3 linked regions of the Homo sapiens genome follow. The protein of the gene in region 2 interacts with the protein of the main gene of each other region in a pairwise test. Each region holds a gene or a part of one and is shown on either strand. Other genes may lie near its edges.

Region 1 (3,657 bases), on a different chromosome or scaffold from region 2:
ATACATTAAGGACAAGACTGTCTACTACTGACAATAGACAGAATAGGTGCTTGGAAATAGAAGAGATTTCTATAGCCTGGGACATTCAGAGAGAGTTCATGAAGAAGCTAAGATGGAGGACCTTGAAAATCAGGTAGAATTTGGCCAATCACTGGTTATTGAACTGTGACTGGCATGGTAGAATTAAAGGGATTTCTTGTTGGGATGTAGTGGGAACTAAGTATAGATCTACAGAGAGGAGCCATATAACAGAAAGTATGGAAAGCTGAGCAGAGGGCTTTGTGTCTCATTGGGGTGGTGTGGGGTGGTGATTGGGTTTCAAAAGAAAAATGTGGGTTATCAAGCAGGAGAGAGATGAGATAATGGCAGTGTTTTCATGTGATTAGCCAAGCATTGTTTTGCAGGATGAACTGCCCCCCATACATCATAACACCTTTTACAAAGGAGCTCCAACTCCACAGATGATGGTTAATTCATCCTAATAACCTCTCATTGAGGCAAAGGAAATGCAGCTTTTATTATTCCCCATTTTGTAGATGATTTGCTCAAGGTCACTGAATATGAAAAGCAGAATAAAAAATACAATATCACAATGTTCAATTGTTCCTAAGTACCAGCTAAATTATATTCTCTCATTTGCTGTGACTCAAGCAAGAGAAGTACATGATGACGGACCTTTGTACTCAAGTGCCATTTCTAAACTCTGATTACTGTTGAAGGCACATGTCCTATCATACCCAATTCCTGTTTATTCTCCCTACAGTCCCTACTCCCCTAGTGTCAAAAGTTCTAACTAACCCCGCCTTCTCTCAGCTAACAGTCTTTGATTATTTTGTTCCAGCTGGTCTTCTGCCATTATCATTAGCATATTCAACACCTCTGCATTAACTACTCAATAACAAGGACAATAATTCGGGTTCACCAATGCAAAGCAATGCTTTCAACCTCAAATTGCAAATCTGATTATCCCCTTAGGGAGGTGTAAGGGAGGTAAGAACTCCACATACTGGACTCTGGTACCAACCTGAATTCTTTCTCCAATGTAGGTTTCCGGATGACTGTTAAGTAAAGAATCCCCCCATCCCCCACCCCAGTTAACTCTCTCTCTAACTTGACACACGTTCTCATCCTTTCATACATCTTAAAGCCACCCTTACTTTTCTTACACCCTTACTTTTCTTACAACCCTTACTTTTCTTACAACCTTACTTTTCCTGTCTCATGAGGGCCCTCACTTCCACATATTCTTTCTGGCATTATGAACCTCTCCCTCCTTGATGTCTCTAGTCCTTCATTTTCAAGTGAAGTGCCCGGCATAGAGTAGATGCTCAGTAAATATCTGATGAATGACCAAAGCTTCAGTTCTACATTTTCAACTACTTATTGGACATATGTACTTTGTCATCCCATTGTTACCACAAAATTCACAAGTCTAGAACAGAAATCCTTAACTTCCTACCAGATCTGGCTCTTCCCCACTACATTCCAATTTCTTTCAGATGTATCATAAGTCTCCCAGTTCCCTCCTATTAAACACCACAGTCTTTAACTTTTCCTTCTGAAACTAGCTAATTATTAAGCCTGGTAATTAATTTTTTCTTCATAGTACTAAACATATGTCCATGGAACCTGTCCATGGAAGGCCCATTGCATCTGTATAACTATGATTGACCCATTGAAATAGCCTCTGTAGCCAGGCGCAGTAGCTCACGCCTGTAATCCTAGCACTTTGGAAGGCCAATGTGGATGGATTGCTTGAGTCCAGGAGTTGGAAACCAGCCTGGACAACCACTAAACATTGTCTCCAAAAAAAAAAAAAAAAAACCATAAAAATTAGCCAGGCATGGTGGCGTGCACCTGTAGTTCTAGCTGCTCTGGAGGCTGAGATGGGTGGATTGCTTGAACCCAGGAAGTGGCGGCTGCAGTCAGCTGTGATCGCGCCACTGCACTACAGTCTGGGTGACAGAGTGAGACCGTGTCTCAAAAAAAAAAAATTAAAAAAGAAGAAATAGCCTCTGTAGATCAAACTGCCTTCCCCTCTCAATCCTCCAGTTGATTCATTCATCCAATTTTGAGATTTCTCTTTCGATATATAACTTGGTACATTGAGTCTCCCTTACTCAGAAATGTTTAATGGCTAGTTCAAAGGCCAAAATCCTTCCCTGGCATTTAAGGACAATCATGATCTGTACTCAATCCAGTTTTCCGACCTTATCATGTATCATTTTTCTAGAGGAATTCTCTATGACAGCCCAAATGACTTTATCCTGTTCTCAAAGATTGTGTGTGTGTGTGCATGCACTCACAAATGCAGTGCACCTTTCCTTATCTATATTGTATACATATGCTCCTTGACTTAAAATGTGGTTACGTCCCAATAAACCTATCATAAGTTGAAAATATTGTAACTTGAAAAGGCATTTAATACAGTACACCTAACCTACCGAACATCATAGCTTAGCCTACCTTAAACGTGTTCACAACATTTACAGTAGCCTACAGTTAAGCAAAATCATCTAATGCAAAGCCTATTTATAACAAAGTGTTGACTAGCTCATGTTATTTACTGAATACTGTATGGAAAGCGAAAAACAGAATGGTTGTGTGAGTACCATTGTAAAGTCAAAAAATCCTAGTCTGTCTACCTCTGCTGGGGATTTTTCCTTGCTTGGAAATGCCCTGCCCAGTGTGCATCCTAACAAGACTTTAGGGTCAGCTTACTTTCTGGAAGCCTTCAACACTTCCAGTGAGAAACTTCTATTATACTTACAGTGAGTTCACAGATTTTGCATTATTTGATATTTCATGTGCTAGTTTTAACAACTCAACAAGATTTTAAGATCTTTAAGGGTGGAACATGTAATATACGTCAGTATGCTTCCCAGAACCCAGTGATTATGTTCACCAATGTCGGGCAGTGTTTCCCACCACTTAGATAAAAGTCTTCAATAAAGTGATCATTAATCGTTAAACTTCATTTCTACTTCTCATCTCAAATGACAACTAGATTTAAACTGTACCACCTTGGTCATATTTAAAGATACATGAAGGCTAATTTTAAAGTTCTTTAGCAGAAGCTTTAAAAGTTCTTTAACAAGAGGCACAGCATAAAGCATAACATTTAGTACTCTAACTCAACATTTAACTTTATTCTTCCACCTACATCTTACGAAAGATTTAACAATCAACAATATTCTAAATGAAACTTGTCCTCAAAAATACTATTGTAGGCTCTAAGGGGAAATATCTTAAACTTAAGTATGATTTATAACTGAAAACTTCAAAGAAAACAGGGTTTGAATCATTAAAGAGTAAATATTTGAGTGGAAAGAAACAGGTTTATTGGTTTTTTTTTAAGTTGTACTTTAAATATTTTCAAGAGTTCAGCTACTGGTATGGAAAATTCCTCTAGTTACACACTAAAGAAGTAAGCACAAATTAAGTACAAAAAACTTCATACCCTCAACATTTGGTGTAACGTGGCAAAAAATGTTCGTTACCACAATATTAAGAAATATCAACAATATGAGTTTGAATAACTAATTCATAAGGAAGAGTTTGAACTGGACGAAATCCTGGGTTTTCTTTCTTCACTCCAAGTTTCTTTTCTATTTTAAACTAGTGGCAACAGCAATTTCTTTGTTTGAAAGTCAGGAA
Region 2 (3,657 bases):
TTTTCATACTAGAAATGTACATCCATTATTTATTTGACTACTTCTTTTCTATTCTTGTTATGTGATCTTTTGCATTTGTCTTAGGATTTTCTGTCTTGGCTAGTTATGACTTCAGATGTCCCATGGCTTGTCTCTGCCTTTGTATTCACAGGGCCTTCTCCCTTTCTCTCTGTATGTCTCTTATAACAACACTTGTCATTGGATTTTGGGCCCACCTAGATAATCTCATCTCAAGATCCTTAACTTAATTATATCTTCAGTGACCCTTTTTCTGAATTAAGGTTACATTTATAATTTCCTGGTATTAGGGCATGAGCATATTTTTTGGGGGGCTACTATTCAATCCACTACAGAAAGCCATTGAAGTGTTTGAACAAGGGAGTGAAATTACCAAAAGAGTATCTTGAGATTAGTTTGGTCACAGGGAGCTTAAAAGATCAAGGAGACAGAGAGTGAAAGAGAGAAAAAGAGACTGAAGGGAAGAAGGCAAAGGAGGCAGAGAGGGAGGAGTGGGAAGGAAAGAGAAAGAGAGAGAAGTAGAGAGAGAGGGGCCACAAGATTAAATGGCAAAAGGCCAGATTTGTGTGGCTGATTGATATCAAAGAAGAGGAAGCAGTTAAAAATGTTCTTAAAGATAAAAGAAAATTAAGAAATAGAAAATAAAAATAAACAGGAATAGCATATTTACTAGAAGGTAACTCTCTTAGAAGACAAATAGTGATCTTAGTTCTGGATATGTTTTATTGAGGATGAAGCAAACAAATGGCAATGCTCAAAACAGCTAACGACGGAGACCAGATGTTTGGGTAATGGTCTTGATAGGAGATATGGAGCTGCAAAATAGTTATACCTGACTTTTTCCCATATTTTCCCCCAACTGCTCTTGTATAGCTTCCTTCTTTCCCTCATACACAGTTTTCTTTTGTTGCTGTTCTTGTGTGTGGGTCTTATGTGTGTGCATGTATTTCCTTGTGGTATAATGCTTCATGAACCACTACCTGGCTACCATCTATGTTTGCTCAAGGCCCTGGGTCTCTACAGTCAGCACGTAGTGAAGCCTGCCAGGCTTGTGTCCTTCCCTCAGGGCAGCAAGTTCCCCCAGTCCCTGGGTTGGTCTAGAGATGCCATCTGGGAGCCAGGGACTATAGCCAAAAACCCTGGAAATCGGCCAGGTGTGGTGGCTCACACCTGTAATCGCAGTACTTTGGGAGGCCAAGGTGGGTGGATTACCTGAGGTCAGGAGTTAGAGACCAGCCTGGCCAACATGGTGAATCCCCTTCTCTACTAAAAATACAAAAATTAGCCAGGCGTGGTGGCACAAGCCTGTAATACCAGCTACTCAGGAGGCTAAGGCAGGAGAATCACTTGAACCTAGGAGGCAGAGGTTGCAGTGAGCCGAGATCACGCCATTGCCCTCCAGCCTGGGCAACAAGAGTGAAACTCTGTCTCAAAAAACAAAAACAAACAAACAAACAAATAAACAAAAAACCTTGGAAATCTACCTGTTGTTCCATTCTACTGTGGCTTAGCAGGCACTCAAACCATGAGACGCAGGCCTTCCCACTCTTCCCCCCACTTTTCACTGGCAGAGGAGCCTCACCTCTGGCCACTATTACTACAAGTCCCCAGGGAGTACTGCTAGCAACTGCTGATGTTCATCTAAGGCCCAAGGGCTCTTCAGTCATCTTGTGGTGAATGCCACCAGGTCTGGGACTCGCCCTTCATGGTAGTGGACTCCCCTCTGACTCAGAGCATGTCCAGAAATGTCATCCAAGAGCTGAGGCCCAGAACTGGGGACCCCTCAGAACCATCCTGGTGCTCTATCCATCTGTGGCCGAGCTAGCATCGAACATACATTGAACATACAGGACAAAGTCTCCTTTACTTTTCCCTCTGTTTTTCTCAAGCAGAAGGAATCTCTCACCATAGTCACCACAACTGCAAATGTGCTAGGTTTCACCTGAAGCCAGCATGTCTTAGGATCTATCTTAGGATCTCATCCAAGTCCCATGGATTACTGCCTGGATATCACTGCTGGTTATTCAGGGCCCAAGATCTCTTAGTCAGCAGGTGATGGATCCTGCCAGGACTAGGTTTTTCCCTTCAAGGCAGTGGGTTCCCTTCTGGCTCAGGGTGTGTCTAACAATGTCATCTGGGAGCTACTTTCTGAATAGGGGCCTCACAACTCTGGTGCCCTGTCCTACTGTGGCTAAGCTGGTATCCAAGATGTAAGACAGAATCCTCTTTACTCTTCCCTCTCCTCTCCTCAAGTGGAAGGAAGGGATCTCTTTTTGGAGCCACGAGCTGTGCTGCCTGGGCTTGTGGGAAGGGTAGTGCAAGGACTCCCGTAGCCACCCCAGCTGTTGCTCACCAGCTTGTGTGCCCTCCAAGTGCATGGCTTCCAATCCCAGCTCATCACTAGGACTTGCTTAGGAGTTGCAGTCCTTGCAGCCTAGACTGCCTTTCATGTCTATTTAGGGCTCAGAGCAGTTTAGTCCGCAGTTGGGAGGCTCGCCAGAACTCGAGTTCCAACTGCTGGGATGGGCGGTTCCCCTCTGGTTAGGGCTGGTCTAAATCCTCCCTCCATGGGTAGGTGTCAGCTGAGTTCAGTTCGGTTTTGCTTTCCACTGTGACAGGGCAGCACTGAGTTCAATGCAAAGTCTCATAGTTACTGTGCTCTCCCTCTCCCAAGTACACAGATTCTTTCTCCTGCTAAGGAACAGGCGAGGGGAGGTACTGACAATGTAAGACTGTCTTTCCTACCTCCTTCAGTGCCTCTTTCAGTGATATGAAGTCCCCAGGGAGTACTGCAGGGACTGCTGATGTTCACTTAAGGCCTAAGGGCTCTCCAGTCATCTTGTGGTGAATGCACCAGGACTGAGACTCACCCTTTATGGTAGTGGGCTCCCTTCTAAAACCAGGTACTGTGAGTGCTCATCTGATTTTGGTTCTTAGAAAGGTGCTTTTTTTTGGTGTAAATGTTAAATTTGGTGTTCCTGCTTGGGGGAGGATAGGTAGAGCCTTCTGTTCAGACATCTTGCTCTGCCCCTCCTAATGTCACATATGGCATTTCTACCTGCAAAGAAACCATTTCCTATCCTTTTCTCTGAGGAGGTCTTGATTGGTTTTAGTTCTAAATTTAGTTAACTACTGCTGCAAATCTTAAAGATGTGGTCATGAATATATTTACAGAGAAATCTCTAAGTACGCTTCTCTCCACCTCCCCATGTCCGTACACATGGGGAAATGTACAAATGTACACATACTTAGATTTTGCTAACCATGCCCGTTCAACTTCATAGCCTTATAGTGCCATAAGCCTTAGCAGTGGTGGAACAAAAATCAAGAGAAAAAAACTCATCATACCTCTTATTGCCTTCCAGTGTTTCTCAAGCTACCTTTTACTCTTGTTTGAATAACTGAACTATATTGACTTCTACAGCATCAGTGGACAGGAATGGTTTTATTCCATCTTACTAGAAATCAAACATTTTTACCAGCAAATTAATTTTTATCCAGGAATAAGATTTTTAAAGCCAGGGCAATAAGCTTACCTTTCTCTTTCCTCCTACCTTTTTCCGAGGGTCCTATTCTGGGTCTTTTTAAAGCAATTTTCTTTCCTGTCTTATTCTCCAATGGTGTTAGAAACTACAGTCA
Region 3 (2,714 bases), on a different chromosome or scaffold from region 2:
GGAGAAAGGACAAGATCTGATTTAAAGTTTAGAATTATCCTTCTGGCTGCAAGTGGAGAATAGGCTGTAGGACGAGGAGGGAGAAAGCAGTAAGACTGATGAGGATGCCGCTGCACCATCTATGGGAGATGACGCTGGCCTGGATGCAGTGGAGACTGTGGGGTTCAAAGTGGTGAGACTTGGGATATGTTTTGGAGTCGAGTGGCCAAAACCCTGTGACTGCTCAGATGTCATAGGGGTGAGGCCAGGCACAGTGGCTCACGCCTGTAATCCCAGCACTTTGGGAGGCCGAGGCAGGCGCATCACCTAAGGTCAGCAGTTCGAGACCAGCCTGGCCAACATGGTGAAACCCCGTCTCTACTAAAAATACAAAAATTAGCCAGGCATGGTGGTGGATGCTTGTAATCCCAGTTACTCAGGAGGCTGAGGCAGGAGAATCGCTTGAACCTGGGAGGCGGAGGTTGCAGTGAGCCGAGATCACGTCACTGCACTCCAGCCTGGGTGACAGAGGGAGACTCCGTCTCAAAAAAAAAAAAAAAAAAAAAAAAAGTCATAGGAGTGAGAGAGAAGGAAGGGCCAAGGAAGCCCCCAGATTTCAGGCTTAAGACATTAGATGGATGGAGGTGCCTTTAACTAAGACAGGAAAGGTGAGGGAAGGTTGGGGGTGAGGATCAAGAACTCAGTTTGAATGGACATGTTGTTGAGATGAGCCCATTGCCAGACTGGGCCCTGGTAGCAGCCCTGAGCTGATGCCCCTTCCCTACCTGGGTAAGGGATCCGGCCGTAGGTGACGATCTCCATCAGCAGGATACCAAAGGACCAGACGTCTGACTTGATGGTGAAGGAGCCAAAGTTGATGGCTTCAGGAGCTGTCCACTTGATGGGGAACTTGGCCCCTGCAGGGTTGAACAGAGCAGAGTCGGGGAAGGCTGGGGAGTAGTGAGGGTTGGCTCTGCTAAGGTGGGGGAACAGGCAAGGGCAAGAGCTGCCAACATCTGCCCCTGCAGACCTGCAATTTCCCTGATACGTGGCCTCCCTGTGGAAGCAAGGGACATCCATCCTGAGGACAGATGGCTAAACAAGGAGGAGTGGGCTTAGGGGCCTGGGGTATGGTGTGGAAGTTCACTCTAGAATCCTCCTCGTTGATTCAGCTGATACCCCAGTTAACTGCAACTCCGAAGAGTGGAATCCCAGAGGTCACAGGTCTTTGGGGACAGAAGGACTTCAGGGGGCCTTGAGTCCAGGTTGCAGCTGATGCCTCAGTCCTCTCATCCTGGGCGATGGGAAAAGGGAGGATTCTGGCTCTCAGCCCATGAGGTTCCCACCAGTCACTATGTGTCTCTCCCTTTACCCGCCCTTCCTCCCACCTAGTCTGACATGGGTTTAGTTAGCCTTTTCATTTTTTTTTTCTTTTAGAGACAGAGTGCCCAGGCTGGAGCGCAGTGGCACAATCATAGTTCACTGAAGCCTCGAACTCCTGACCTCAAGCTATCCTCCTGCCTCAGCCTCTCAAGCCCCTGGGGTTACAGGTGTGCCCCATTATGCCAAGCTAATTAAAAAAATTTTTTTGGCCAGGTATGGTGGCTTGTGCCTGTAATCCCAGCACTTTGGGAGACCAAGGAGGAGGATCACCTGAGGTCAGGAATTCGAGACCAGCCTGGCCAACTCCATCTCTACTAAAAATACAAAATTAGCTGGGCATGGTGGCAGGTGCCTGTAGTTCCAGCTACAGGCTGAGACAGGAGAATCACTTGAACCCAGGGGATGGAGGTTGCAGTGAACCGAGATCACACCACTGCACTCCAGCCTGGATGATAGAGTCAGACTCCGTCTCAAAAATAAAATAAAATAAAATAAAATAAAATATAAAAAAATAGAAAAATTTGTAGAGACAGTGTTTTATTATGTTACCCAGCCTGTTCTCAAAACTCCTGGGCTCAAGTGATCCTCCCATCTTGGCCTCCTAAAGCACTGGGATTATAGGTGTGAGCCACCGCACCTGGCATAGTTATCCTTTTTTAAAAAGTGTTTAGTTTAATTATATCATGGTTGGTGAACATGGTCTATAGAATATATGTTCTTTGGAATTTGTTGAGACCTGCTTTATGACTGAGTACATGGTCAAGTTTTGAAAATGTTCTATGTGTGTGTTTGTGTGTGTGAGAGTGTGTGTGTGTGTATATGTTTTCTCCCTTCCTCCTTTGGATCTACAGACTTTTCTTGATTTCCTGCTTATCTTCTTCTGGTTTAGAAATTATACATTCTACTTTTATTCCTTTAGTCATTACATTTATTTATTTATTTATTTATTTATGTTTTGAGACAGGGTCTCGCTCTGTTTGCCCAGGCTGGAGTGCAGTGGTGTCATCTCAGCTCACTGCAAGTTCCGCCTCCCGGCTTTCACGCCATTCTCCTGCCTCAGTCTCCCAAGTAGCTGGGACTACAGGTGCCCGCCACCACGCCTGGCTAATTTTTTGTATTTTTAGTAGAGATGGGGTTTCACCGTGTTAGCCAGGATGGTCTCGATCTCCTGACCTCGTGATCCTCCCACCTCAGCCTCCCAAAGTGCTGGAATTACAGGCATGAGCCAACGTGCCCGGCCCTATTTATTTACTTTTTTGAGACAAAGTCTTGCTCTGTTACACAGGCTGGAGTGCAGTGACATGATCTTGGCTCACTGCAGCCTCAACCTCCTGGGCTCAAGCGATTCTCCC

What was found.
Region 1: the proteins of GRB14 (region 2) and STK26 interact in a two-hybrid assay, tested with the Homo sapiens proteins (one large-scale study listed by BioGRID and IntAct).
Region 3: the proteins of GRB14 (region 2) and HCK interact in a two-hybrid assay, tested with the Homo sapiens proteins (one large-scale study listed by BioGRID and IntAct).

Annotation. Positions count from the first base shown.
Region 1 is NC_000023.11:132,026,199-132,029,855, reverse strand, and holds part of STK26 (serine/threonine-protein kinase 26), read right to left. Parts: intron 1-3,657. UniProt on the Homo sapiens protein: Serine/threonine-protein kinase that acts as a mediator of cell growth. Modulates apoptosis. In association with STK24 negatively regulates Golgi reorientation in polarized cell migration upon RHO activation.
Region 2 is NC_000002.12:164,509,976-164,513,632, reverse strand, and holds part of GRB14 (growth factor receptor-bound protein 14), read left to right. Parts: intron 1-3,657. UniProt on the Homo sapiens protein: Adapter protein which modulates coupling of cell surface receptor kinases with specific signaling pathways. Binds to, and suppresses signals from, the activated insulin receptor (INSR). Potent inhibitor of insulin-stimulated MAPK3 phosphorylation.
Region 3 is NC_000020.11:32,097,186-32,099,899, reverse strand, and holds part of HCK (tyrosine-protein kinase HCK), read right to left. Parts: intron 897-2,714; coding exon 765-896; intron 1-764. UniProt on the Homo sapiens protein: Non-receptor tyrosine-protein kinase found in hematopoietic cells that transmits signals from cell surface receptors and plays an important role in the regulation of innate immune responses, including neutrophil, monocyte, macrophage and mast cell functions, phagocytosis, cell survival and proliferation, cell adhesion and migration.